Linked DNA regions of Homo sapiens. The protein of the gene in region 4 interacts with the protein of the main gene of each other region in a pairwise test. Each region holds a gene or a part of one and is shown on either strand. Other genes may lie near its edges. The genes, in order: IDH1, RAPSN, ATXN1 and TGFBR2.

Region 1 (7,817 bases), on a different chromosome or scaffold from region 4:
TTCACACGCGGTTTCTGAGCTAGCCCTCATAACAATCCAAAAAAATGGCCATCATTTCCCCATTTTACTTTGTTAAAAAAAAAAGAGCTTTCCCAAGGCCACCTAGCTAGAGCGTGGCAGAGCCTGACCCTATAACGTGCCCTTCATAATGCAATCATTATTCTCAACTACTGGTTTGTCTTAAGAAATGAGATTATTTCCACAATCTCATGTTTATTGAACACTTCAGTCCAACTCATCATTTTACTGGGCTCTCAAGATGTCCAGAATGGTGAGTGCTAGCATTTCTCCTCCTTTAAGAGGCTGTTTTTGTTATTTAATAAAAATAACTAGCCATGAGGAGATTCAGCTGGTTCCTGTGACCCATATTCAGGGAAACTTTAAGTCTAAAAGCGAGACGAAGAATTCCTGGTGGAACTGTTTTCCTAGAGATAACACAGACATTGGAGATGTGGGGCTAAATACAACAAAGTGATTTCTCAATTAGAAGAATCTCTATACAGTAGGGCCACTGCCCAGGACCCAAGCATGTCCCTGTCATCTTCTTCTGGCTGTTCACAGGCAAGGGTAAGCTGCTAGTGAGTGGGATAGGACAAACTGTGCATTGTCCTAGGAAGACAGCACTTTAAGGATAGGGTGTGGGGGTAGCATATACAAATCAATCTGATTCTCAGAAAGTGCAAGGTTGGACGCTTTGGAAGAAATGAAACTGTCCCAGCTTGTCCCTAGAGGCAGAAGAAGCTCTGAGCCTGCTAAAAGTTATCTATTCCTTCTAATGATGCTCTAATCGAAACTCTTTTTTAATCCAACAACACAGCTGCAAATTGCTTTTATTCTCTTAAGGACTAAAAAAGTCAAGAGAATTGACTTTAAAGAATTATTAGATAAGAAGCCTAAAATAGTCTTTCTTGAAAAATTGAGCTAAAGTAATTTGGTCTTTAAATAAAAATGTAATGATTAGTAGACAGTAAGCGTCTGTTTCTTGACAAGCCTGGATGTATTTCCAATCCCCAGGCCCATTTTCACTTCCCAAATTCGCAATTCTAGAATTCTTCTTACTAGTGTTTAGGAGATTCCTTTGGGGGAACCTTCTGGAACTGAACTAGACTAAAAGAAATGAACAGAATGGTGTGGATGAGTCAATTACTTCCCATTTGTAATGTCAAGTATAATTTGTAGTACAGCTGAAAGCATATGATTCAGTTCATGTTTGATTCCACTGTCACACCTATCCTTGTTTTAAAACAAAGCAAAAAAGGAGGCAGTGAACTTATCTGGTTCCTGATAATACACTTCCATGGCCATGTCCCTATATAGTATGATGCAACAGTCATGACATGGCAATTTATTCTTGATGGCAAATACAGTTAATAGAGGTCAAATATTGTACCTAAAATGTGAAGACTGATATCTTTTTAGTTCACTATTTCCTTCTCAGTTAAAGCAACTGTACTCTCTGCAGTAATCTTTCTTTATCTCATAATGCATACTTCAGACGCTTCAGGTTTTCCTCACATTACTTAGCCATGAAATTTTTACCATCTTTTAACTAAAACAGTGAAGCTTTATTGTTACTACCATGTGGAACATAATTGTATTTCTTCTGGATCTGATTTCCATGGGATGGGCTTGAGGCCCCACTGGACTGACTTCTCCACCTTTGTTGCCCCTCAGATTTTGTCTCCAACCCAATCCCAACTTCAGAAGGAAGGGCTGTTCCAAGACCAGCAGGCACCAGCTCATATGAAGTAGCTGAATCCTATCTCCTAACATAATTGTGCAATTCCAGAAAATAAACCTGGAATAACAATACAGAGTAGTTTAATGAAAAAAAAGAGCCATTTAATATTATTTTCATCAACCTCAAGTTTTTGGCCAGATTGTTTTTTGCCGAGTTCATGAACTACAATAATTTCTGGGCAAAAAGGATCTCTTGCAGATAAGACACTGTATTAAAAGAAACAAGGAAGCTGTTGGAATTCGTTGTTGGAAATATTCCTCACTCATTCCCTTGCAGTGCCTCGGCCTGCCCCCAAGACCAGTTAAACACTGTACTGCCACATCAAAGAAAGTACAGAAGAAGGGGGAAAATTTGCTAATTCTCACCTTGACAGTGAATAGATTTCTTATCACCCCAGTTCCTCCCAGTCTTGCAGACTCAACTGAATGTAGTTTATCGCCTAAAACAAAACAAGGAATAAAAGTGTTAACATACAGAACACTCACAGGAGAATTTAGCTGTTTTTAGTACCTGCCAGACAGCCCAGTTTATCCGGTTTAAAGTACAGTGCTGAGTGTACTCGGTGGGACAAAGGCCAATTTTAGGCCCGCAGGCACTTTCCAAATAAAGGTCATGGGAGCACAATTTATCTCTGCGTGTGCGAGGGCGTGCCCCCGCTTCGCCGCCCGTTAGCAGGTCTTGGGGTTTGCATGTCCTTGCTCTTGGCCTGCACCCGTCCTTATGGCCGTTGTGCAAGAGGGCTGCAATCAAGGCTGGATCGGTACCTCCTTCCAGGTCTCCACGCCCGCCCCTCCCCTCCCCTCCCCTCGCTGGTGCTGGGACCTTTTAAACTCCAGGCACCCGGAACTGGCGGGGGTGTTTCCCCCAGCCCCCTCTCGCCCCGTGTGGCCTAGCGACCCCTCTGAAGGCCGCTGGAGCTCCGCCCCTCCACGCCCCCTGGCGGACGCGAGGGATCGGCTTCAAGGCTATTCCTCGCCGCCTGAGTTGCCTGCAGACGCCCGTCTGCGGCTTACAGCCTTCTTTGCATCCAGCCCCCAGCTGCTGCACGTTTTCTTCCTCCTACACTCCAGGCTTAGTCTTCTACATGCATTCTTGCAACTTCCACCCCTCGATTTTCCAACCCAAGTGCAGACCTGATTTTCCCCTTGTCGTTGCATCCAACTTCCTCACCGCCCAGTTTCTCCCTCCCAGGCCCAAAAGCAGACCTTCTGCATATCCAAGCATCCAGCATCCCCTCCTTCCCTTTTCTTTTCCCATTCTCAATACCTGGATTTGTTCCCTTCTTTGCACGCAGGCCTTGACTCCCTCCACACCCAAGATCTGCGCTTTTTTCCTTTACCCCATTCCTGCCTTCTGCGGAATTAGAGCCACCCCTCCACAGCCAGGGACCGGGGCCGCCCCTTGGAGCCTGAGGTTACCTGCCGGGATGATATGCTGGCGAAGAGTTGGGGCGCCACAGCCGCTCACAAGCTCAGACTCACAACCACAGCCTGGCAATCCCAAACCGGACTCCCAGTGCCTCCGCTTCTGAAGTAGACTCTGCAGAAACCCGGGACCACAGGGTAGGTCCGAGCTTTTCCTCTTCCCGGCTTTGTCCCCTCCCAGGCCCCGCCTCCTCAGCCCACCTCCCCCAGCCCCGCCCCCGACACGCCTCCAATCGCCACACGCCAATTCCCGTGGGATGGGCGGAGTCAGCGAGAGGGGCGTGGCCACAGTCAAAGATGGAGAATCCATGGTGCCACTTTCCCGGTGATCCCGGTGGGGGAAGGGGTTGCCGCCCGGCAGAGATTCAGTCCCGAATCCCGACAGCGAAGAGACTTGTATGCCACCTGCAGGCCGGGGAGCGGGGCGCGCTGGGGCTGCACCACCCCGAACTTTGTAACAATCTAGAGCACCACAGAGTGTTTCCAGGTCGGCACAAAAGCGAACGGGACAGGGCGCCCTGGGCGGCGGCAGCTTGGCCGGCCCGCTGCCTAGCGCGCCCCCGAGGGGCGGTAATGGAACGTACCTTTGGCTGAAGAAAGAGTGCTCCCGGCCAGCGCGGGGTCGCCTAGGGGGTTCCGCGCTGCCTAATGCAAAGGATGGAAAAGTTACAGAAGCAGGTCCTGACACCACCTATGTCTAGGTCTTTAGAAACTCCATTGATTGTTTGCATTAGAAGATAATGAATGGGATTCTTATTATTTTCTTTTTTAAGACAGGGCCTTGCTCTGTTGCCCTGGCTGGAGTGCAGTGGAGCGATCACCGCTCACTGCAGCCTTGACTTCCTGGGCTCAAGAGATCCTCCCACCTCAGCCTTCCGAGTAGCTGGGATTACAGGTGCACACAATCACACTCAACTAATTTTTCTTTCTTTCTTTTCTTTTCTTTTTCCTTTGGTAGAGATGGGTTTCAGCAGCCCAGGCTGGTCTCGAACTCCTGGACTCAAGTGATTGGCCCTCCTCGGCCTCCCAAAGTCCTGGGATTACAAGCGTGAGCCACCATGCTCAGTTGGCGGGGGATTATCTGTGATCCAATGAAGTTGGACTAGAGATGTGAAGCCTTAGAAAACGGTGGATTGAAAAAAGAATTTTAGTCTCCTCCAGAGATTATATTTTGTGTGTTCATTGCTCTCAAAAACATGAAAATAAAGAGTATTTTATATTGTGATTTGTAGGACAATAGCATGCTTGTATATTGCTGCCCAGAATTTAATGCTCCAATATTTATTTATTTATTTATTTATTTATGAGACAGAGTCTTGCCCTGACAGGCTGGTGCAGTCTCGGCTCACTGCAACTTCCGCCTCCTGGGTTCAAGTGATTCTCCTCTTTCAGCTTCCCAAGTAACTGGGACTACAGGTGTGCCACCATGCTAAGCTAATTTTTGTATTTAGTAGAGACGGTGTTGCACCATGTTGGCCAGGTTGGTCTCGAACTCCTGACCTCAAGTGATCCGCCTGCCTCGGCCTCCCAAAGTGCTGGAATTACAGGCGTGAGCCACCGTGCCCAGCCTCCAAAATTTATTTTAAAAAATTATCTCTAACATTGAATTAGTACATTATTCTTTGAAGATAAACTGATCTACGTGGTACTACTCAAGGTGCACTTTGGACACCAGAGGGCACTGGTATTTTTCCCGAGAGAAAAGAAAAAAGCATACACCTTGTCAACTTGGTTTTTGAGGTGGCTTAAGGGATATTGGCAGCCACCTCCATTTATTCCTGTAGAACTGTTTAGAGAGGTATATGAGCTTTTTGAAGGGGGTCTGACCCTCCACACCTGTGGGTATTTCTCATCAGGTGGAGCCGAGAGACTGAGAAAAGAAATAAGACACAGAGACAAAGTATATAGAAAGAACAGTGGGCCCAGGAGACTGGCGCTCAATGTGCAAGGACCCGCACCAGCGCTGGTCTCTGAGTTCCCTCAGTATTTATTGATCACTATTTTTACTATCTTGGCGAGGGGAGTGTGGCAGGGCAACAGGGTGATGGTGGGGAGAAGGTCAGCAGGAAACATGTGAGCAAAGGAATCTGTATCATGAATAAGTTCAAGGAAAGGTACTACGCCTGGATGTACACATAGGCTAGATTTATGTTTCACTTTACACAAACATCTCAGTGTAGCAAAGAGTAACAGAGCAGTATTGCTGCCAGCATATCTCGCCTCCAGCCACAGGGCGGTTTTCTCCTATCTCAGAATAGAACGAATGGTCAGCTTTACACTGAGACATTCCATTCCCAGGGACGAGCAGGAGACAGAAACCTTCCTCTTAACTGCAAAGAGGCCTCCCTCTTTCACTACTCCTCCTCAGCACAGACCCTTCACGGGTGTCAGGCTGGGGGATGTAAGGCCTTTCCTTTCCCACAAGGCCATATCTCAGGCTGTCTCAGTTGCGGGAAAGCTTGGACAATACCCAGGCTTTCTTGGGCAGAGGTCCCTGCGGCTTTCCACAGTGCATTGTGTCCCTGGTTAACAGAGAATGGAGAATGGTGATGACTTTTACTAGGCATACTGCCTGCAAACATACTGTTAATAAGGCACATCCTGCACAGCCCCAAATCCATTAAACCTTGATTCAATACAGCACATGTTTCTGTGAGCACAGGGTTGGGGCTAAAGTTACAGATTAACAGCATCTCAAAGCAGAATAATTGTTCTTAGTACAGATCACAATGGACTTTCTTATGTCTTCCATTTCTACATAGACACAGTAACAATCTGATCTCCCTTTCTTTTCTCCACTCTTAATTTTCATCTTGAATCTGATGCCCTAAGACACCTGAGACTGTAATTACTTTATATTATATCAGGTTCACATTGCTTATTACCCCTTTCTCCCTACCGAAAGTAAGCATTCATATCCTTTCTTGTTCCCAAAATAATGTAGGGCAGCCATAAAAACACATCAAATATAGCACAATAAAAACATTGACTATAATTGAGAAAAATAAGGTTAAAAAATGAATAGCTATAGGATGTTATATAGAACCAAGGCAAATTCAATCATCAAACATGTTATATCAAATCCTAAACACTTGCTAGAGATGGCTGCAAATTTGGCTTTAAGCCAATGTACTAGTAAAGGTGGCAGTTATTGGAGTCTCAGCATCTAAAACAGTGTTTCCTAAGCCAGTAATGGAGGAGTTGATTTTCCACTGAAAAATCTGGCTGGGTGCAGTGGCTCAAGTCTGTGATCTCAGCACTTCGGGAGGCCAAGGCAGGAGGATTGCTTGAGGCTAGGAGTTTGCAACCAGCCTGGGCAACATAGGGAGACCCTCTTTATACAAAACAAACAAACAAACAAACAAACAAAAATTAGACAGGCAAGCTTGCGCCTATAGTTCTACCTACCTGGGAGGCTTAAGTGGGAGGATCACTTGAGCCCAAGAATTCGAGGCTGCAGGCTCCAGTGAGCTATAATTGCACCACTGCACTCTAACTGGGGCAACCAAGCGAGATCCTATCTCTTAAAAAAATTATTTTTCAGATCCCTAGGATTGACATTAAAATATTGCTATAAATATGCATAAAACTAGATATATGCTCCTTAGGCTGACAGCTCATACAACTGTAAAATAAAAAAATTTATAGATAAAATGACTAGAAAGAAAAGTAGAAAACAATACATCACCATTAATATCACTTAAATACAACAAATAACATTTAGCTGAAATTAAATTACTTCTTGAAATGGGAAGATGAAGTTCACTGGTTATGTGCAGGTTCTTTTTTTTTTTTTTTTTGAGACAGAGTCTCGCTCTGTCACCCAGGCTGGAGTGCAGTGGCGCAATCTCAGCTCACTGCAAGCTCCACCTCTCGGGTTCACGCCATTCTCCCGCCTCAGCCTCCCGAGTAGCTGGGACTACAGGCACCCACCACCACGCCTGGCTAATTTTGTTTTTGTATTTTTAGTAGAGATGGGGTTTCACCATGTGAGCCAGGATGGTCTCGATCTCCTGACCTCGTGATCCACCAGTGTTGGCCTACCAAAGTGCTGGGATTACAGGCGTGAGCCACCGCACCTGGCCATGTGCACGTTCTTTTTTACATAGCCGGCCTATTTTACTGGATGACATATGATGGTTCATTTAGCCCAGCACCCCTCTCTATTTGGTTAATATTTCATGTGTTGACATCATTTGTCTTTCATTTAGCCAGTAAAAGAATCTGAGTATTTTAATAGTCTGGCCCCAAATACTGTTATAAACACAAATGGAAACACAGGCCATGAAATTTCTGTAAGCATTTGGTTTTGACACACTCATCCAGATAATGGGATTCTCATAAATATTCTAATGTGGTTGTATTTTCATTTTGATTATCGAAAAAAAACTGAGGTAGAATGAATAGAGCTTGGTCATTGATTGTCCATGAAGATTATGAGAGAGAGAACGGCAAAAGGGAATTCTGAATTTGGAGTTTGGGAGACAAGGTGCAGTTCAACAAAGAAGGAATATACATAGAGTCACAGATCTGATGGCCAAGATCATGGGTTAAGTTTAAGGTTTCTTAACTTTGCGATGCCATGGGACAGCAAGATGATGTCCAGGAGGCAGTTGGCCTCATCTGCAGTTCAGAAAGGGTGGGCTGGAGAA
Region 2 (7,793 bases), on a different chromosome or scaffold from region 4:
TTGCGAGACAGACGTGAGGCACCACGCCTGGCCAAGGTTAAGTGTTTGCTATTAGTATTATTGCTGTGATTAAGCCAGCTGGGCCCTAGAGTGCCCCGAAGAGATCCTGCCCACCCCTGTCCACCCCCCCAGGAGCCCCCACCTGAGGTGGAAGATGTGGGAGCAAGGTAGGGCCTGCAGCCGGCTGTTCTTCTCGCCTATGGACTCGCCGCACAGGCCGCAGTAGAGCTCCGTCTCCTCCACGCACTCGTGGAACCTCACAACGTGCGCCCGCAGTTCCCGCTGCAGCCCTTTGCTGCGGTAAATGCTCTCGCTCAGACAGTGCAGCTTGAGCTGGCTCAGCTGGGGCCCGCAGGAGTGGAGAGCGCCAGTGGGGGATGAGAACAAAGTCAGTGCAGGTAGGCTCCGGTCTCAGCCACTTCCCTGTCTTGCTGATGGACCTTGGAAAAATGTCCTGCCCTCTCTGGGACCTTGCTTCCTTTCATGCAGAATGAGGCGGTGGGTGAGATCAGAAGACTTCACCCCCCAGAACTGCCTGGAGACCCCATGTTTTTGACAGATTTTATGACCAAACCTGGTGCACAGACTCCATAATAATTTGCGGCAGGGCGCCGTGGCTCATGCCTGTAATCCCAGCACTTGGGGAGGCCGAGGCAGGTGGATCACCTGAGGCCAGGAGTTCGAGACCAGCCTGGCCAACATGGCGAAACCCCATCTCTACTAAAAATACAAAAATTAGCCGGGGGTGGTGGTGAGTGCCTGTAATCCCTGCTACTCAGGAGACTGAGGCAGGAGAATCGCTTGAACCCAGGAGGCGGAGGTTGCAGTAAGCCGAAATCGCACCACTGCACTCCAGCCTGGGCTCTAATAGTGAAACTCCGTCTCAAAAAAAAATAATAATTAATCTGCTTTCCTGTTTTTATTAATTAAATATACACACAATAGCTCATCAGCATTTCTGATCAGCCTGATACCCAGGTAAACCAGAGTGGCTATAATCCAACCAAATTTTGGCATTTTGGTTGGACTGTGCACAGGATCTCGTAGAAATGCACATCTGGAAGGCTTTGAGAAGTGGTGAACCTGTTTTCAAGATTTTAAGGTTTTAATAAGATTATGACGATTTTTTTTTTTTTTTTTTTAGATGGAGTCTTGCTCTGTCACCCAGGCTGGAGTACAGTGGCACAATCTTGGTTCATGGCAACCTCCACCTCCCGGGTTCAAGTGATTCTCCTGCCTCAGCCTCCCAAGCAGCTGGGATTACAGGCGTGCACTACCACACCTGGCTAATTTTTGTATTTTTAGTAGAGACAGAGTTTCACCATGTTGGTCAGGCTGATCTCAGGTGATCTGCCCACCTCGGCCTCCCAAAATGCAGGTGTGAGCCACCGCACCCGGCCTTGGTTTTGGTTTTTAGGCCATGCTAATCTTCTCTGTATTGTTCCAATTTCAGAATATGGGCTGCCAAAGCAAGCACTAGATACCATTATTAAATTTGGAACATGGGCTTTGTAGTTAAAACAGACAAGTTAGTAGGTGTGGGACCTTGGACGCCTCTTTGAGCCTCACTTTTCCTCATCTGTAAAATGGGGCTTGCTGTACTCACCTCACAGGGAGAGAGTGAGGACTGGACCCAGTACCCATAAGGACCCTGTGTGTGCTCAGTGCTCAGGGAGTGGAGGCCACTGTTAGTTTTTGTTTGTTTTGAGATAAGGTCTCACTCTGTTACCCAGGCTGGAGTGCAGTGGAGCAATCACAGCTCACTGCAGCCTTGACCTCCTGGGCTCAAGCTATCCTCCCACCTCAGCCTCCCAAGTAGTTGGGACCTCAGGTGTGTGCCACAACAGCTGGCTAATTTTAAAACATTTTTTGTAGAGGCCGGGCCTGGTGGCTCATGCCTGTAATCCCAGCACTTTGGGAGGCCGAGGCAGGTGGATCACCTGAGGTCAGGAGTTTCAGACAAGCCTGGCCAACGCAGTGAATCCCCATCTCTATAAAAAATACAAAAATTAGCCCAGTGTGGTGGCGGGTGCCTATAATCCCAGCTACTCAGGAGGCTGAAGCAGGAGAATCACTTCAACCTGGGAGGCAGAGGTTGCAGTAAGCTGGGATCGCGCTATTGCACTCCAGCCTGGGAGACAAGAGCAAAACTCAATCTCAAAAATGTTTTTTTCTTTTCTTTTCTTTTCTTTTTTAGAGCATGGGTCTCATTATGTAGCCCAGGCTGCTCTCGAACTTCTGGGCTCAAGTGATCCTCCTACCTCGGCCTCCCAAAATTCTAGGATTATAGATGTGAGCCACCATGTCCAGCCCACTGTTAGGGGTTTTAATCAACATCAGGAAGCTTCTGAGGAATTCTGCTATCCTCCAAGCTATGAAACTTCTGCCCTGCCCTCAGAAGTGCTGTGTGTGTGGCAGAGAAAGAGCCAGAGTATGGGGTTGGCTGCAGGCAGCTCCCAGCATCAGGAAGGGCTCATGACGTGAGTAGGCTCAGGAAGGCCCTTCCCCAGACCCAAGTTCCCCACTTGGGCCCTTGACCCCAGATCCAGGACACAGAATCAAGTCTGACCTTGTTCCCCACCTCCTCGGCCAGATCCTGGGCTCTCTCGATGGCATCCAGAGCCTGGAAGGTGAGCATAGGCCAGGGCTGCGGGCAGAGCTGTCTGACAGGCCTTGCTCACAGGGAAGCACAGGGTAGGGGGGCAGGCCTAGGGAGGGTGACATGGCAGCTGCCTTGTGTGTGAAGGCAGCAGGAAGAGACTAGGGCACAGTCATAGGGGCTGTGTGGGCAAGTGACCTCCTGCCTCAGTTTACCCAGGGTTCCAGCCCTTTACTAGCTGTGGGTCCTAGGGCAAGTGATGGGCCTTCTCTGAGCCTGGAAAATGACCAGGAATGTCCTGGCCTCGTAGGATCAGGGTGAGGCTGACGTCAGACAAAGTGGCTGAAAGAGCCGGCTAACCTACTGGCCCCAAGTGGGGAGTGCTGGGAGGGCTGGAGGCTGTGGGAAAGGCCCGACCTCACCTTGTCCAGCGCCTTCCTGGCCACCCAGCACTTGGCCACACCCAGCAGCGCCTGCACCTGCCCCAGGCGGTTTCCGATCTCGGTCATGATGCTCATGGCGGAGTCGTACCTGGGGAAGGCTGTCTGCAGAGCCAGGTGGGGGATGGAATCAGGCTGTATCAGGCCTGTGCCCCTGCCCCCTGCCCCCAGCCCCTGCATCCCGGTGACCTCACCTCCAGGTCCCCACGGCTCCGGTGGATGTCAGCGAAGCAGAGCAGGCAGAGCGCCTGCAGTGGCCGGTCCCCGTGCTGCAGCGCGATCTTCATAGACTCCTGCGAGGGAGGCCAGTGGCTCAGGCCTACTCCTCTGCCACCACCACTGGAGTGCCCTCCCCTCAACAGACCCCTCTGAAGGGACAGCCCAGGGAAGCAACATCCTCAGAGCCTAGTGAATCTATCATGGTGCTGAGGGCTCACACACTGAACCACTGAAGTCACAGCACCCAGCAAGGTGGGTGGAAAGTGAGGCTCAAAGAGAAGTGACTTGATTGGGGTCACCCAGTAAGTGACAAAGCTGGGATGTGAACCCAGGTCAGTGGGACTCCAGAAACTGGCCCTCTTCCGTCTCTACCCTTCAAAGTACCCCATATAGGGTGTTGGGGCAGAAGGAAGCCCCCTCCCCTGCAGATGGATTGGAAGGGAGTGGGTTTGGGATGAGGCTGGGGGACAAATGTTTCCTTCAGGGGTTCAGCTGTAGAGAACTCATCTCATTTAAAAAATAAAAACTGGGCCAGGCACAAGTGGCTCATGCCTGGAATCCCAGCACTTTGGGAGGCCAAGACACGAGGATCGCTTCAGCACAGGAGGGTGGTTTAGTGAGACCCCGTCTCTACAAAAATAAAATTAGCTGTGCATGGTGGTGCACGCCTTTAGAGAGGCTGGGCCAGAGGCAAGCCCTAGGGGGCTTCCATGGGCTGATTTGGAAGAAGGAAGCCCTGCTGTCCCAGGCCCCAGCCCCTGGCCCACACCACCTCATCCCCGACCTGCCCCCTTCCCCGCTGCCCCACCTCACAACACTCCATGGCACTGCCCAGGCGGCCCAGCAGGCGATAGGCCACGGCCATGTGGTACTGGCTCATGGCCCGGTACTTCAGGCTCCAGCCTTTGCCATAGTTGTTGACAAGCTCTGCCGCCTTGCAGGGGAAGAACAGGGCTTTCTCGTAGTCCTGCAGGGGACATGGAATGGAAGGAGGCAAACTGAGTGGCAGAGGCTGCCCCAAGTCAAGGGCTCCTGGGCTAGGTTTCTCTAACAGCAGGTAGGGGCAGGGGGCCCGAGTGTCTGCTCATTCATTGTGACATCCAGGACAAGAGTGGCCCGGTAGAGGGAACAGCCAGTGCAAAGGTGTCGCTCTGTGGACTCAGGGATTCTCATCTGGTTTGTGACGCATCCCAAGAGCCTAGCACAGTTCTTGGCACTTGGTAGATGCACAATAAATATTTGTTGAGTGAATGAATGAAAAGACAAGAAAACACAGTTGGCTTCTCTTTTCTCCCAATGCCAAATGGGCTCCTCAGCTTCAGAGATGCACAGGGATGGGAGATACCAGATCCCTCCACTAGAGCTTGCCTGCTGGCACCCGGAAGCAGGTGTTCACTGAAGCTCAGTGGCAGACTGGCAGCACAACAGGCTCAAAAGAACATCAGACAGACTCAGCGAGGCGATGCAACCATTGGCTTGTACTTTTTCCTCAAGCTTCCAAATGCATTTTCTACCTGCTCATGGTCAGCTGATGACCTCGCCTCAACTCCACGAGGAAAAGGAAGAAAATCAGGGAGAAGCTCCTTCCCCTCCTGTCTCCACCAGATCTCCCATCTCCGCACCTCTGCTCCCACGCTCCCTGCCTCCTTTCCTGTCACTGTGGAGGATGGCTCCTGTTCCCATCAAATGCCAGCCTCCGATGAGCAGTCTCTGCATCGTCAGGTCCTCTCTTTCTACAGAATCTTTCCCATCCACGTGCAAACATGTCTGGCATTTCTCATCTCATTTAAAAAATAAAAACTGGGCCAGGCACAGTGGTTCACGCCTGGAATCCCAGCACTTTGGGAGGCCAAGACAGGAGGAACGCTTGAGCATAGGAGTTGGAGAATGGCCTGGGCAACTTAGTGAGACCCTGTCTCTACAAAAATAAAATCAGCTGTGCATAGTGGTGCACGCCTGTAGTTCCAAGCTACTCAAGAGGCTGAGGTGGGAGAATCACTTGAGCACAGGAGGTCGAGGATATGGTGAGCTGAGATTGCACCACTGCACTCCAGCCTGGGTGACAGAGGCAGACTCTGTCTCACAAAAAAAAAAAAAAAAAAAAAAAAAAAAGAAAAGAAAAGAAAAGAAGGAAAGAAAAAAGAAAACTAACCCACCTTCTCGTGACGTCATTTCCCTTCAGCTAAAGCCCCATTTCACTGTTCTTTTTCAAGGTAAATCTATTTGATCTTTCACTTAATATTTAACAAGCAGCTCCAAGTTAACATGACCAAAAGAGAAGTGTCAATAACCCCCCCAAAAAACCCTTTTCCTAATATGCCTTATTACATACTTTTGAAGCCACATAAATGTTTTACAGATTAAAAAATTAAATTTAATTTGAAAAATACCTAAAAATAGAAAATGGAGGTCAGGTGCAATGGCTCATGTCTGTAATCCCAGCACTCGGGGAAGCTGAGTTGGGAGAACAGCTTGAGGCCAGGAGTTCAAGATCAGCCTGGGCAACATTGCAAGACCACTGTCTCTACAAAAAATTTAAAAATTAGCCAGATGTGGAAGAATGTGCCTGTAGTCCCAGCTACTCAGGAAGCTGAGGAGGGAGGATCGCTTGAACACAGGAGTTTTAGGTTACAGTGAACCGTGATTGAGCCACTGCACTCCATCCTGGGTGACAGAGCAAGATCCTGTCTCAAAAAAAAACAAAAACAAAAACAAAAACAAAAACCTAAGGCTGGGTGCAGTGGCTCACACCTGTAATCCCAGCACTTTGGGAGGCCAAGATGGGCAGATCATGAAGTCAGGAGATCGAGACCATCCTGGCTAATATGGTGAAACCCCATCTCCACTAAAATACAAAAAAACTAGCTAGGTGTGGTGACAAGTGCCTGTGGTCCCAGCTACTTGGGAGGCTGAGGCAGGAGAATCACTTGAATCTGGGAGACAGAGGTTGCAGTGAGCCGAGATCGCGCCACTGCACTCCAGCCTGGGCAACAGAGCAAGACACTGTCTCAAAAAAAAAAAAAAAAAAAAAAGTAAATAAATGTCCCTAACTGTGTGTCATATTACTACAACCACACACACAAATAATTATTTTGGCCGGGCGCAGTGGCTTATGCCTGTAATCCCAGCACTTTGGGAGGCCAAGGCGGGTGGACTACAAGGTCAAGAGATCCAGACCATCCTGGCTAACATGGTGAAACCCCGTCTCTACTAGAAATACACACACAAAAAAAATTAGCGGGGCGTGGTGGCAGGCGCCTGTAGTCCCAGCTACTCGGGAGGCTGAGGCAGGAGAATGGCGTGAACCCGGGAGGCGGAGGGTGCAGTGACCGAGATCGTGCCACTGCACTCCAGCCTGGGTGACAGAGTAAGACTCCGTCTCTAAAAAAAAATATATATATATTATTTCAATGACTTTGGAACAAAAGTACTCAGTTTACCCATAGTGGGATACATTACAAAAACAAGGCTGGGCACAGTGGCTCACACCGGTAATCCCAGCACTTTGGGAGGCTGAAGCGGGTGGATCACCAGGTCAAGAGATTGAGACCATCCTGGCCAACATGGTGAAACCCCGTCTCTACTAAAAATACAGAAAATTAGCTGGGCATAGTGGCGTGTGCCGGTAGTCCCAGCTACTCGGGAGGCTGAGCCAGGAGAATCGCTTGAACCCGGGAGGCAGAAGTGGCAGTGAGCCGAGATCGAGCCACTGCACTCCAGCCTAGGCAACAGAGCGAGACTGTCTCAAAAAAAAAAAAAAAAAAAAAAGCCAAAAGAACAGCAAAGAAATCTTAAACTTCATTCAGTTGTCTTTATTTTCTAGAGTAATATTGGTATTGTCTTTTGGAATTATTTTACGTATTTTGTAGGGTAAAGCAAATATTTAATTATGTGGTTAGAAACTAAGATTTTTCATCTAAGAGAAAAGACAATCAAGTTTAAAATAAGTTAAGGGGAGCTCCTGAAACATTAGATTTGAATTGGAAATGTCAGTATAAACTTCCATTATTCTGATAACTGAAAAGATTTAGAAGCACGGACATCCCACTAGCAATGAACACCCCACAAGCCCACACTTGGGCTTTTTTTTTTTTTCTCTCACACAGGGTCTTGCTCTGTTGCCCAGGCTGGAATGCAGTGGAACACTCATGGCTCACTGCAGCCTCAAACTCCTGGGCTCAAGCGATCCTCCCGCCTCAGCCTCCTGAGTAGCTGAAACAATAGGTGTGAGCCACCATGTCTGGTTCATTTTTAAAGTTTGGTGCAGATGGGGTCTTGCTATGCGACTCAAGCTGCTCTCAAACTCCTGGGCTCAAGCAATCCTTCTGCTTGGCCTCTCAAAGTGCTCAGATTATAGGCATGAGCCTTGCCAAATTAAAAAAAAAAAAAAACTGTTTGTAGACGCTGGTCTGGAACTCCTGGTCTTGAGCGATCCTCACCCCTCAGCTTCTCAAAGTGCTGGGATTACAAGTGTGAGCCACCAGGCCTAGCTTACTTTTCTTCAGAATTAAAAAGGTTTTTAAAAACCCCTGTCC
Region 3 (5,642 bases), on a different chromosome or scaffold from region 4:
GCAACTAAACTGAACAAATACCTGACTTTTCTTTTACCCCATTGAAAATAGTACTTTCTTCGTTTCACAAATTAAAAAAAAAATCTGGTATCAACCCACATTTTGGCTGTCTAGTATTCATTTACATTTAGGGTTCACCAGGACTAATGATTTTTATAAACCGTTTTCTGGGGTGTACCAAAAACATTTGAATAGGTTTAGAATAGCTAGAATAGTTCCTTGACTTTCCTCGAATTTCATTACCCTCTCAGCATGCTTGCAGAGAGCTGGGTGGGCTCATTCTTGCAGTCATACTGCTTATTTAGTGCTGTATTTTTTAAACGTTTCTGTTCAGAGAACTTGCTTAATCTTCCATATATTCTGCTCAGGGCACTTGCAATTATTAGGTTTTGTTTTTCTTTTTGTTTTTTAGCCTTTGATGGTAAGAGGAATACGGGCTGCCACATAGACTTTGTTCTCATTAATATCACTATTTACAACTCATGTGGACTCAGAAAAACACACACCACCTTTTGGCTTACTTCGAGTATTGAATTGACTGGATCCACTAAACCAACACTAAGATGGGAAAACACACATGGTTTGGAGCAATAGGAACATCATCATAATTTTTGTGGTTCTATTTCAGGTATAGGAATTATAAAATAATTGGTTCTTTCTAAACACTTGTCCCATTTCATTCTCTTGCTTTTTTAGCATGTGCAATACTTTCTGTGCCAATAGAGTCTGACCAGTGTGCTATATAGTTAAAGCTCATTCCCTTTTGGCTTTTTCCTTGTTTGGTTGATCTTCCCCATTCTGGCCAGAGCAGGGCTGGAGGGAAGGAGCCAGGAGGGAGAGAGCCTCCCACCTTTCCCCTGCTGCGGATGCTGAGTGCTGGGGCGGGGAGCCTTCAGGAGCCCCGTGCGTCTGCCGCCACGTTGCAGAAAGAGCCAGCCAAGGAGACCCGGGGGAGGAACCGCAGTGTCCCCTGTCACCACACGGAATAGTGAATGTGGAGTGTGGAGAGGAAGGAGGCAGATTCATTTCTAAGACGCACTCTGGAGCCATGTAGCCTGGAGTCAACCCATTTTCCACGGTCTTTTCTGCAAGTGGGCAGGCCCCTCCTCGGGGTCTGTGTCCTTGAGACTTGGAGCCCTGCCTCTGAGCCTGGACGGGAAGTGTGGCCTGTTGTGTGTGTGCGTTCTGAGCGTGTTGGCCAGTGGCTGTGGAGGGGACCACCTGCCACCCACGGTCACCACTCCCTTGTGGCAGCTTTCTCTTCAAATAGGAAGAACGCACAGAGGGCAGGAGCCTCCTGTTTGCAGACGTTGGCGGGCCCCGAGGCTCCCAGAGCAGCCTCTGTCACCGCTTCTGTGTAGCAAACATTAACGATGACAGGGGTAGAAATTCTTCGGTGCCGTTCAGCTTACAAGGATCAGCCATGTGCCTCTGTACTATGTCCACTTTGCAATATTTACCGACAGCCGTCTTTTGTTCTTTCTTTCCTGTTTTCCATTTTTAAACTAGTAACAGCAGGCCTTTTGCGTTTACAATGGAACACAATCACCAAGAAATTAGTCAGGGCGAAAAGAAAAAAATAATACTATTAATAAGAAACCAACAAACAAGAACCTCTCTTTCTAGGGATTTCTAAATATATAAAATGACTGTTCCTTAGAATGTTTAACTTAAGAATTATTTCAGTTTGTCTGGGCCACACTGGGGCAGAGGGGGGAGGGAGGGATACAGAGATGGATGCCACTTACCTCAGATCTTTTAAAGTGGAAATCCAAATTGAATTTTCATTTGGACTTTCAGGATAATTTTCTATGTTGGTCAACTTTTCGTTTTCCCTAACTCACCCAGTTTAGTTTGGGATGATTTGATTTCTGTTGTTGTTGATCCCATTTCTAACTTGGAATTGTGAGCCTCTATGTTTTCTGTTAGGTGAGTGTGTTGGGTTTTTTCCCCCCACCAGGAAGTGGCAGCATCCCTCCTTCTCCCCTAAAGGGACTCTGCGGAACCTTTCACACCTCTTTCTCAGGGACGGGGCAGGTGTGTGTGTGGTACACTGACGTGTCCAGAAGCAGCACTTTGACTGCTCTGGAGTAGGGTTGTACAATTTCAAGGAATGTTTGGATTTCCTGCATCTTGTGGATTACTCCTTAGATACCGCATAGATTGCAATATAATGCTGCATGTTCAAGATGAACAGTAGCTCCTAGTAATCATAAAATCCACTCTTTGCACAGTTTGATCTTTACTGAAATATGTTGCCAAAATTTATTTTTGTTGTTGTAGCTCTGGATTTTGTTTTGTTTTGTTTTTTAAGGAAACGATTGACAATACCCTTTAACATCTGTGACTACTAAGGAAACCTATTTCTTTCATAGAGAGAAAAATCTCCAATGCTTTTGAAGACACTAATACCGTGCTATTTCAGATATGGGTGAGGAAGCAGAGCTCTCGGTACCGAAGGCCGGGCTTCTTGAGCTGTGTTGGTTGTCATGGCTACTGTTTCATGAACCACAAGCAGCTCAACAGACTGGTCTGTTGCCTTCTGAAACCCTTTGCACTTCAATTTGCACCAGGTGAAAACAGGGCCAGCAGACTCCATGGCCCAATTCGGTTTCTTCGGTGGTGATGTGAAAGGAGAGAATTACACTTTTTTTTTTTTTAAGTGGCGTGGAGGCCTTTGCTTCCACATTTGTTTTTAACCCAGAATTTCTGAAATAGAGAATTTAAGAACACATCAAGTAATAAATATACAGAGAATATACTTTTTTATAAAGCACATGCATCTGCTATTGTGTTGGGTTGGTTTCCTCTCTTTTCCACGGACAGTGTTGTGTTTCTGGCATAGGGAAACTCCAAACAACTTGCACACCTCTACTCCGGAGCTGAGATTTCTTTTACATAGATGACCTCGCTTCAAATACGTTACCTTACTGATGATAGGATCTTTTCTTGTAGCACTATACCTTGTGGGAATTTTTTTTTAAATGTACACCTGATTTGAGAAGCTGAAGAAAACAAAATTTTGAAGCACTCACTTTGAGGAGTACAGGTAATGTTTTAAAAAATTGCACAAAAGAAAAATGAATGTCGAAATGATTCATTCAGTGTTTGAAAGATATGGCTCTGTTGAAACAATGAGTTTCATACTTTGTTTGTAAAAAAAAAAAAGCAGAGAAGGGTTGAAAGTTACATGTTTTTTTGTATATAGAAATTTGTCATGTCTAAATGATCAGATTTGTATGGTTATGGCCTGGAAGAATTACTACGTAAAAGGCTCTTAAACTATACCTATGCTTATTGTTATTTTTGTTACATATAGCCCTCGTCTGAGGGAGGGGAACTCGGTATTCTGCGATTTGAGAATACTGTTCATTCCTATGCTGAAAGTACTTCTCTGAGCTCCCTTCTTAGTCTAAACTCTTAAGCCATTGCAACTTCTTTTTCTTCAGAGATGATGTTTGACATTTTCAGCACTTCCTGTTCCTATAAACCCAAAGAATATAATCTTGAACACGAAGTGTTTGTAACAAGGGATCCAGGCTACCAATCAAACAGGACTCATTATGGGGACAAAAAAAAAAATTATTTCACCTTCTTTCCCCCCACACCTCATTTAAATGGGGGGAGTAAAAACATGATTTCAATGTAAATGCCTCATTTTATTTTAGTTTTATTTTGATTTTTATTTAATATAAAGAGGCCAGAATAAATACGGAGCATCTTCTCAGAATAGTATTCCTGTCCAAAAATCAAGCCGGACAGTGGAAACTGGACAGCTGTGGGGATATTAAGCACCCCCACTTACAATTCTTAAATTCAGAATCTCGTCCCCTCCCTTCTCGTTGAAGGCAACTGTTCTGGTAGCTAACTTTCTCCTGTGTAATGGCGGGAGGGAACACCGGCTTCAGTTTTTCATGTCCCCATGACTTGCATACAAATGGTTCAACTGTATTAAAATTAAGTGCATTTGGCCAATAGGTAGTATCTATACAATAACAACAATCTCTAAGAATTTCCATAACTTTTCTTATCTGAAAGGACTCAAGTCTTCCACTGCAGATACATTGGAGGCTTCACCCACGTTTTCTTTCCCTTTAGTTTGTTTGCTGTCTGGATGGCCAATGAGCCTGTCTCCTTTTCTGTGGCCAATCTGAAGGCCTTCGTTGGAAGTGTTGTTTACAGTAATCCTTACCAAGATAACATACTGTCCTCCAGAATACCAAGTATTAGGTGACACTAGCTCAAGCTGTTGTCTTCAGAGCAGTTACCAAGAAGCTCGGTGCACAGGTTTTCTCTGGTTCTTACAGGAACCACCTACTCTTTCAGTTTTCTGGCCCAGGAGTGGGGTAAATCCTTTAGTTAGTGCATTTGAACTTGATACCTGTGCATTCAGTTCTGTGAATACTGCCCTTTTTGGCGGGGTTTCCTCATCTCCCCAGCCTGAACTGCTCAACTCTAAACCCAAATTAGTGTCAGCCGAAAGGAGGTTTCAAGATAGTCCTGTCAGTATTTGTGGTGACCTTCAGATTAGACAGTCTTCATTTCCAGCCAGTGGAGTCCTGGCTCCAGAGCCATCTCTGAGACTCGTACTACTGGATGTTTTAATATCAGATCATTACCCACCATATGCCTCCCACAGGCCAAGGGAAAACAGACACCAGAACTTGGGTTGAGGGCACTACCAGACTGACATGGCCAGTACAGAGGAGAACTAGGGAAGGAATGATGTTTTGCACCTTATTGAAAAGAAAATTTTAAGTGCATACATAATAGTTAAGAGCTTTTATTGTGACAGGAGAACTTTTTTCCATATGCGTGCATACTCTCTGTAATTCCAGTGTAAAATATTGTACTTGCACTAGCTTTTTTAAACAAATATTAAAAAATGGAAGAATTCATATTCTATTTTCTAATCGTGGTGTGTCTATTTGTAGGATACACTCGAGTCTGTTTATTGAATTTTATGGTCCCTTTCTTTGATGGTGCTTGCAGGTTTTCTAGGTAGAAATTATTTCATTATTATAATAAAACAATGTTTGATTCAAAATTTGAACAAAATTGTTTTAAATAAATTGTCTGTATACCAGTACAAGTTTATTGTTTCAGTATACTCGTACTAATAAAATAACAGTGCCAATTGCAGATGTGTGTCTTTGCCTTCTGTTGGGTCCTCAAGGAAGAGGCCAGGAAAAGAGTGCTAATTCCTCCTCCTTATTGACCCCCGCTCACGAGTTCTCCCTGGGTAGGTCGGAGGTAGGGAGGTGTGACATGAGGCATTGCCTTCGCTGCTAATGTTTTGGGGGGAAGAGTACGTGTGAGATGAGGTTCTAAGATAAAAGGCACACAGCCACACCTGATGTCTTGGTTTCTTCAGTTCATGTTTATGCCTCCTAGCTGAACACTGCTGTTCACAAGAGGTATACTTGTCTTTAAACATGTGGTAGCTTCATGCGCTCGTGTGGCATAATCTATACACTCCTTACAGATTTGCTCTAAACTGGTTAGTGGTCTGTAAGTGGAAAATTTATTTTTACTTCCTGTAATTCAAGCTCATTAGAAATTCAGCGAGCAGACCGGGCACAGTGGCTCACGCCCATAATCCCAACAGTTGGGGAGGCCGAGGCACAAGGCCTGCTTGAGCC
Region 4 (8,678 bases):
TGTTCATAACTGAGTAGAAAACATGTAGTAGTTATGTTGACTACATAGACAACAGTCATCATTAGGGAATGCTACATTGAAAAGAAGGCAATGAGTTCAAAATGTGATTAGTATTTTGTATAAATCATAACTCATTAAAAATAAGATGTTGAGTGGCCTAAAGGTGGAAATGTGTTTTTATGAGGCGGAAAAAAAGCACGAGTAGACTGAAGATCAGATTTGGGGCCTAATGATGTCTAGTCTCTTACCCTGACAAAATAAGCAGGTTATTAAAGTGATGTGAAGAACCTGATCACTATGACACTTTTACAAATTCTTTGTCCTCAATAAGAATCTATCTACTTCCAGGAACCTGAAAAGTCATATTTTTCAGACCTGAAGAGTTATTGTGCACTTTACAGTTTTCCCCAAAAGAGTCATTTCTTAATTTTGATCATTTAGGAAGAGTGAATCTATTAAGTCAAAAACGAAGAAAAAAAAACTTTCTATTTCTTAGTGAAATTTGTTCTTTTATTTAAATCCTTTGCATACTACTAAACAGAAGTACAGAAGCTACTAAACAGAAGACAGATTTTTGGGCCTTTTTAGGTGACGTAAAAGGAGCTTGTTGTTTATTAAACAATCTCATTACCTGATATATTATCTTGCATTAAGATATTTTGAAAAAATGTTTTCAGTTTACCAATTACGTTAGAGAAATTCTGAAACTATTTACTTACATGAAAAATTAAAATGTAAGTAGAATTAGGTTTCTCGTCTTCAATATATCTGTCTTCAACCATTGGCCAACTTTGAAAATTTAATTTGAATCAAATGAATACAAATTCAAAATGATTCATTAATTCAACCATTTTGAAACTTCAGTTCTATAAAAATATGAAATCTGTGGGCCTTGTAAAACTGTCTAAATACCCAAATAAAAAGCCACCACGTTTTTAAGCTAATTGTTTAAAAGTGTGTATATTGATGAAATGAAAGTGACTCGTGAACTATTGGGTCTGGAATTTGCAAATCATAAACCTTATCCTTGTAAACAGAACCTAACTAACAACATCAGGGCCTGCTAATTTCCTTCTTTTATAATCTGGAACAAAAGTTGTAATGATTTTTAACATCCACAGAAAATTAAGGGTGCCATTTTAAATATTTATTAGCAAAATGTCACTTAGGTTTTAAAAGTCTGGAGGAAAATGAGAGACAATTGAACATTCTGGTACTGCAATGCAGGAAAAACGCCAAGAACGAAACACTAAGATTTTATTAAAACCATAGGACTCAAATGTGTGTCAAGACTTTTTGCTTGCAATAGTGCCTCTTCCTAATTTGATTAAAAGCTTCCATCTCCATGCCACCTTCAATGTATGCCATAATTTTTAAAAAGTTCCCAATCCACTTCAAACACTCTAAAATTTACAACTGACCGTGATGCGCATTTTTTCTAGACAAACCTAAAGGTAAATCTGCCCATGTCCCTGGATAAATAAAATGAGTGCCTCCGGGTGATGTGGACTGTCAACTCCTCTACATTTCATCCAAAGTCTACATGGGTCATCTCCAAGTCACCAGAAGAGCCAGGGGAAAGGAGGGGAGGGGCACGATACGTAAGATGTTAAACATGAAGATGATGTAAAATTACCCAGATTCAAGCTGGCCATTTTACAGATGAGGAAACTAAGGCCCAGAAAAAGCTCTATGACTTGCCCAAATACTCGGTTACCCAGACCACAGCTGCAGATACTGTTATTTGGATCATAGCTGCAAAAAGTCTAACTTTTGGCCGGGCGCGGTGGCTCACGCCTGTAATCCCAGCACTTTGGGAGGCCAAGGTGGGCGGATCACGAGGTCAAGAGATCGAGACCACCCTGGCCAATATGGTGAAACCCCGTCTCTACTAAAAATACAAAAATTAGCTGGGCGTGGTGGCACGCGCCTGTAATCCCAGCTACTCGGGAGGCTAAGGCAGGAGAATCGCTTGAACCCAGAGGCAAAGTTGCAGTGAGCCGAGATTGCGCCACTGCACTCCAGCCTGGTGACAGAGCGAGACTCCGTCTCCAAAAAAAAAAAATCTAACTTTTGAAGTCTCAGAGGTTTTACACTTTCCATAACAAATAGTTAAGAACCCCCATTCCTGCATGCATATATATATTAATATTATATATATTTATATATATAATTATATATATATTTATATATATATAATATATATATATATTTTTTTATTTTTATTTTTTCCTTAAAAACCTTCAGAGACAGCGATCAGGTGGGTAGCCTAGTTAGGATTTTAACCCTTCGGTTTCCAACAAACGATAATTGCATAGAACCATCAACTCCCTGAAGACAGGACTATCTTGTTCCAGGCAAAATCTACAGCCTCTAGCACCCAGTAGGCATTCAGTGAGGGATTCTCGGTTTCACCTGAGCATCTCCACTCCCTATCCATCCATGCCAAGGCGTCAGTGGAGCCAGCTAACTTTCTTTTGGAAATCGATTATTTTCTTGAAACTTGTTTCCAAAAACTCCGGGCCAAGAAGCCGGCCTGAGGGAAAGCGTGGCCGTCTCCAGGAGCTAAGGACTGAGGAGCTGGCCTTTTGAACGGGTGGCTCAGAAAGAGCTGGGTGGGCACGCGGCATCGCCATGGGCGGAGTGGCCCAGGTGCGCTGGCTGCTTTGGCAGCTCAGGCTGCCGCTCCGGGCCGCTGCTCCCCGGCCGCCTTCAGATAACCAACTTCTCAAACTTCCCTTTCCGGGGGTGGGGGCTCGCCTCGAACGCGGCCAACACAACGCCTTTCCTGCTCGCACAAAGGGGACCAAACGTGCCCCGCGCCCCTTGCAACTGAACTTTCCTTCTCTTTTTCAAGAAAAACTCACAATCCCTGCAGCTACGGGAGTCGGGCTGCGTGAGTGTCGCGGGGGAAACTTTCCTCGTTTCCGCCCGGGGGCCGGGTTGCCGGGCCCGACTGTCAAGCGCAGCGGAGAGGCGGGGACCCCAGGAAGACCCCCGGCGCCCCGCCGAGCCCGGGCTGGGGACCACTCACCCGACTTCTGAACGTGCGGTGGGATCGTGCTGGCGATACGCGTCCACAGGACGATGTGCAGCGGCCACAGGCCCCTGAGCAGCCCCCGACCCATGGCAGACCCCGCTGCTCGTCATAGACCGAGCCCCCAGCGCAGCGGACGGCGCCTTCCCGGACCCCTGGCTGCGCCTCCGCGCCGCGCCCTCTCCGGACCCCGCGCCGGGCCGGCAGCGCAGATGTGCGGGCCAGATGTGGCGCCCGCTCGCCAGCCAGGAGGGGGCCTGGAGGCCGGCGAGGCGCGGGGAGGCCCCCGGCGGCCGAGGGAAGCTGCACAGGAGTCCGGCTCCTGTCCCGAGCGGGTGCACGCGCGGGGGTGTCGTCGCTCCGTGCGCGCGAGTGACTCACTCAACTTCAACTCAGCGCTGCGGGGGAAACAGGAAACTCCTCGCCAACAGCTGGGCAGGACCTCTCTCCGCCCGAGAGCCTTCTCCCTCTCCTCGACGTCCAGCCCCTAGCTCTCTCGTAGCTGCCAATCATGTTTCCTAGACCAGCCCCTCCGAGAGCTTTGGCCGACTTTCAGCTGCCCCTCACCGCCCTCCCACACCACTCAGGAGTTCCTCGCTCCAAGTATTTACTCAAGAATGACTAAGTGCACACAGTTCACAAAGTAACAACAGAAAACGTCCACGTTTTCCCTAGTAGATCAGAACATCTGCCGCCTCCCCTCAGCTTTCTTCAGATTGCTCCTAGGTGCTTTAGAGATGCGTTTTCAAATTGCAAGTTGAGATCCAGGAGTGAATACTCCAATCTATTGAGTCGCGAGCACATTTCTTTCCCAAATAAAATAGTAACGGTAAATTCTACTTCATTAAATTTGTGCTTCAGTTGTGTCTATATGCATGTATGTATGTGCATACACTGTCAAGTTGTAAAATGTTTTTCTTTAGGTCGAAGTCTAGAGGTTTTTCTCAAGTTTTAATGTACATATTGATCACCTGGAAATCTTATTTAAAAATGCAGATTCTAATTCAGTAGGTCTAGGAGGCAGGCAGAGATTCTGCATTTCTAATGAGCACCTGGATAGAGCGTCCCATTTTGCACCGCCTCTTCCCGGGACTGAGTCAGTGAGTAATTGTAAATGATCACCTATCACGAAGTGATAGTGGTGGGAAATGTAATTTTCAGAATGTATAGAGTATAGCAGAAACTGTAAAATTAAAAGTGGGTTGGGAGTCACCTGAATGCTTGTGCTTTTATTCCCTTAATGCAGGTGAAGAAAGAGAATACTTACCCTCTCATGTGCAAACGGGGTAACATGGGAGCAGAACAGTATAAACTTTCAAATTTCCTTTCTTGCTAGGGCAACCAGATTTGCCCAAGACATTCCTGGTGTACATGTTTTGTAGTTTAAATATTAATAGAACCCCCTTTCTCTTTCAGATATGTCCTGATTGGATAATAAACTATGTGATCAACCTACTTCCCACTCTCAAAGATATGATTCTGTACAGCCCTCTGGTCAGTAGATCTTCTAGCAATTCATTTAATGAATTCCTTTACCTGAGAGGAAGATTGCAGAGGCAAGGGTTTGTGCCAGGGTCTCCAGGGAATAAAGGTAAATAGCCCTCCCCCAAACCCAACTCCCAAATCTTTCCTGTCATTCTAAGTGTTCATTTGCTTCATCCTGGAATTTTAACTCATGCTCCACCTAGCACCCAAGCTGCCTCTGGATGTTTTGCCACTTCCCAGTACTCATGTTGAAGATGCAGAAAGTGCAGTGAAATCAGGAGGGCTAGGCATCTTCTTTCCCACCAATTAATTGCCTTGCCAAAGCTGGAGTGACTTTGTCAATGGAGGAAGATTGAGTTCCAAATCTTCTCCCTATTCCCTCTTCTGCCACCAGCCCATGCCACTGCCATGGCTTGTGTAGGAGTCTCCCACGAGTCACCCTCAGCCACGGCCGTTCTGGGCTCTTTCACTCAGTTTCTCAAACGAGAGCTGAATTCAGCTTTTCAAAATACAAAACTAGTTATACCAACCCTCTGATTAAAATCATTTAATGGCTTCCCACTGCTCTTGAGATAAAGAGAAGATAAAAACCAGATCCTTGAACGTGTCTTCAAGCCTCCAACTCTCCCGTAAACTTTCATTTGGCTTCTCCTTGCTTACTGAAAGCCTTCTCCAAATTTCGTGAATATGCCTCTGTAATCCTCCTACCCTTTATGCTTAGAGCCTTCCCCAGTGTGGACTTCCTTCCTCTGACCTTTTTTTCTTCACCCAGCCAACTCCTGGTCTTCGTGGATTGAATCATAACTTCTTTGATGGGCAAGCTTTCCCTCACCTCCATGAGTAGATCTTGTATTACACGTTCTCTTGGCACCATATGCTTTTCTTTTAACAGCTGTAACTTTATAATTATTTGTGTCATTCTTTAATTTATATTTCTATCCTCCACTCAACTCCAAATTTCTTGAGGGCAGGTATTATGTATCTTTCCCTCCACTTACTATTGTGTCCCTAAGCATCAAACACATAATCGATGTTTAATAAATATTTGTTGGATGAATGAATGAATCAGGCAATAAAGATTTAGAAGAAAATTGTATTTGATTGTTCTAGTTGCTTCATAACTCTGGAGAAAACATTGTTACCGAATATTTGAGATATAAACAGACTACATTTTAGCCGAGAATGATGTCACCACTACTTCCTTTTCTTAAGAATGGAGAAGTATGTGGGTTTCTTTCTTCTTCTTTTTTTTTTCCTACATTTGCCCAAGTTCCTCCAGATAGCAAACATGTACTTTCTTTCTCCTGAAAACACAATGTGGCAAATAAATGTCCAATAGATTCCAAAAGCTTTGTTTTCCTTAATTATCACAAAGATGTTTTACATTGTTGGAGGCTAGATATTTAAATCTATGGTGGAATGTTTAACTGGTGGTCTTTGCCATGATACATCATTAATGTTGATTTTAATTTTGTTTGCCCTTAACATTTCTGATTTAATCTCCAGTCTCCTGTGAAATTGAGAAGAATCAGAATTCAGCATTGCCAAGTGCAAGCTAGCCTTTTGAAAATCATCATAATAAAAATAATAGATGTGTAAACTCATGCATATTGCAATTTGATAATTTTAAAAATTCATCAGGCTGAGTGCAGTGGTCCACACCTGTAATCCCAGCACTTTGGGAGGTCTAGATGGGAGGATTACTTGAGCCCAGGAGTTCGAGACCAGCCTAAGCAACATAGTGAGATTTCATCTTTACTAAAAAAAAAAAAAAAAAAAAAAAAGCCAGGCATGTTGGCATGTATCTATAGTGCCAACTACTCAGGAGGCTGAGGTGGGAGAATCACTTGAGCCCAGGAGACGAACGCTGCAGTGAGCCATGATTGTGCCACTGCACTTCAGCCTAGAAGACAGAATGAGACCCTGTCTCAAAAACAAAAAATAAATAAAAGAAAAAGAAAAAAAAATTGTCATGATGCCCTTCCTTTTGAAATTCTTGTTGAAAGGGATGTCTGATACCCTTAATCAAGACATCATTTTCACACATAGTTGTATATTTGGCTTAGTATAATATTTTGTGTATTCACATAAGCAGTTAATATATACATGTAAAAAACTGGGCCATTTGCAAATGGGAACAAAAAAATAATAGCCCGACTCAGGGTTTAAAAAACAAGGAAGGTAACGTTTAAGCCCTTAATGAGTTGAAAAACAATAAATATCAACTTGAACAGAAATTTTAAAAGCTGACAATCTATTTTACCAGCTTTTTAAACTCTGCACGCACACACAAACACACACAATTGAACTGAATCAAATTGTGGTTTATTTAAACGTTGGGTTTCTCAGTTGTGATGAGAGAAGAACTTCCTACTCCCCTGAGCTTTGTGACATGCAGCTGTTGAGGTTACTGTCAGCTAGAGCAGTTAACAGGGAGATTCCTCTCCTTATAAATTAACCAGCCTCATTCTCAGCTCTTATCTCTTGACCAATTTTCCTTTTATTGTGAAGCAAACCAATAAGCACTGAGACTGTAGTTAATTTGTGAGGGTCATCCACCCTTTGTGGGTCATCCATGATGCTACCTCCTCCAGGAAATATTTTGTGATGCTTCACCTACTGTGATCACTCCTTTCCCAGGGATAACCCAGGGAACATTTCGTTTATTTAGCCTTTTTTTAAAAAAAAATGTTTGCCCCATTCTAACATGGAGTACATTATTGTTATTTATTTGCTTTTTAGAATTCTACCCTAATGATTGTAAAGCCCTTAAAAGCACAAAATATTCCTTTTTCAATGTAGAACCACACTCCGTGCTCTACAGATAATCAGTATTCAGTGTGTGTTTCTTGTCTTCAATAGAGAGAAAAATAAGAATATCAGTTTTCCTAATCCATTCTCTTGTTTGCAGTTCTTCACAGATATTAATAGAACCTGCAATTATGCCACATGTTTACAGAAAGCATCAATAGTATGTTTTGAAAAAAATAACTTTTTGAAAATTACAAGGGTAATACGTGTTAATTATAGGTAGGAAATTTAGATTTTTTTTTTAAAGGCAGACTTTAAAAGGATTCTTAACCCTATTATCCAAAGATAATCCTTGTTAAATTTTGGAGCATGTCCTTGCAGTACTATTCTAATCTTCCCTTTACAAATGAAGAATTTGAGGATTAAAGAGATTAAGTATTTGACAAAGGTCACATAGCTAGTAAAAGACAGAGCCCAGATTTGAACTTAGTCCTGTCTAGTTCCAGACTTGTTCTACACTCTAGAACAAATTGATCAGGTGGTTGATCTTCGCCACCTGACCAGTGAAGGATTTCAGGAAATGCCACTCCAAAATATGCTGCTTTGGTATACTGATTATTTTCAGTTGAAGGCACTTAAAGACCAGCAAATGCAGGGAGGAGGAGAGACATGTGGAACAGATGTGGACCAACCTCCTGATTGAATCTAAGCCAGACCTCCATCAGCCAATCTCAAGCCTACCTCTAGCCAATCCATATGAGTCTGAGTAAGAATAAGTAAATGCCGTTTAAGGAAAAATTTGGGTTGGTTTGTTATCCAGAATTTTTGAGGCAATAGCTAAGAGATATAAGGGATGTGAAGGGTGAGGAATCACGGAAAAGCAAGGTTAAATAATTTGCAGGTGGTAAAACTACAAAGGGGTTCTTATAGACAAAAACTATCATGAGGTTTGTTATGGGGGCTGAAGATGAGGAAGACAGTAGGACTCCAATTTAGACTTTTAGGATCATCTACAAATTAAATTGTACATACAGTTAAAGAATATGGGCCGGGCATGCTGGCTTATGCCTGTAATTCCAGCACTTTGGGAGGCCGAGGCAGGCAGATCATGAGGTCAGGATTTCGAGACCAGCCTGACCAACATTGTGAAACCCTGTCTCTACTAAAAATACGAAAATTAGCTGAGCGTGGTGGCACACACCTGTAATCCCAGCTACTTGGGAGGCTAACGCAGGAGAATCGCTTGAACACGGGAGGTGGAGCTTGCAGTGAGCCAAGATCACGCCATTGCACTCTAGCCTGGGCGACAGAGCAAGACTCTGTCTCAAAAAAAAAAAAGAAAAAAAAATTTAAAAAGAAAATGACCAACACCATTCCTCCATTCCTTGTTTACTTAAAATCCACT

Evidence for each region.
Region 1: the proteins of TGFBR2 (region 4) and IDH1 interact in binary tests that used the Homo sapiens proteins (3 or more experiments, as listed by UniProt).
Region 2: the proteins of TGFBR2 (region 4) and RAPSN interact in binary tests that used the Homo sapiens proteins (3 or more experiments, as listed by UniProt).
Region 3: the proteins of TGFBR2 (region 4) and ATXN1 interact in binary tests that used the Homo sapiens proteins (3 or more experiments, as listed by UniProt).

What each region holds. Positions count from the first base shown.
Region 1 is NC_000002.12:208,251,780-208,259,596, forward strand, and holds the start of IDH1 (isocitrate dehydrogenase [NADP] cytoplasmic), read right to left. Parts: upstream 3,293-7,817; 5' UTR 3,160-3,292; intron 2,680-3,159; exon of another isoform or gene 2,564-2,679; intron 2,525-2,563; exon of another isoform or gene 2,252-2,524; intron 2,181-2,251; 5' UTR 2,107-2,180; intron 1-2,106. UniProt on the Homo sapiens protein: Catalyzes the NADP(+)-dependent oxidative decarboxylation of isocitrate (D-threo-isocitrate) to 2-ketoglutarate (2-oxoglutarate), which is required by other enzymes such as the phytanoyl-CoA dioxygenase.
Region 2 is NC_000011.10:47,438,590-47,446,382, forward strand, and holds part of RAPSN (43 kDa receptor-associated protein of the synapse), read right to left. Parts: intron 4,226-7,793; coding exon 4,067-4,225; intron 3,333-4,066; coding exon 3,234-3,332; intron 3,145-3,233; coding exon 3,022-3,144; intron 2,709-3,021; coding exon of another isoform or gene 2,624-2,708; coding exon 2,570-2,623; intron 1,478-2,569; exon of another isoform or gene 1,417-1,477; intron 479-1,416; coding exon of another isoform or gene 343-478; coding exon 143-342; coding exon of another isoform or gene 70-142; exon of another isoform or gene 1-69. UniProt on the Homo sapiens protein: Postsynaptic protein required for clustering of nicotinic acetylcholine receptors (nAChRs) at the neuromuscular junction. It may link the receptor to the underlying postsynaptic cytoskeleton, possibly by direct association with actin or spectrin.
Region 3 is NC_000006.12:16,298,612-16,304,253, reverse strand, and holds the end of ATXN1 (ataxin-1), read left to right. Parts: 3' UTR 1-5,142; downstream 5,143-5,642. UniProt on the Homo sapiens protein: Chromatin-binding factor that repress Notch signaling in the absence of Notch intracellular domain by acting as a CBF1 corepressor. Binds to the HEY promoter and might assist, along with NCOR2, RBPJ-mediated repression. Binds RNA in vitro.
Region 4 is NC_000003.12:30,601,334-30,610,011, reverse strand, and holds the start of TGFBR2 (TGF-beta receptor type-2 isoform B precursor), read right to left. Parts: upstream 3,129-8,678; coding exon 3,035-3,128; exon of another isoform or gene 1-3,034. Other genes in the region: translation initiation factor IF-2-like, read left to right, coding at 3,088-3,528. UniProt on the Homo sapiens protein: Transmembrane serine/threonine kinase forming with the TGF-beta type I serine/threonine kinase receptor, TGFBR1, the non-promiscuous receptor for the TGF-beta cytokines TGFB1, TGFB2 and TGFB3.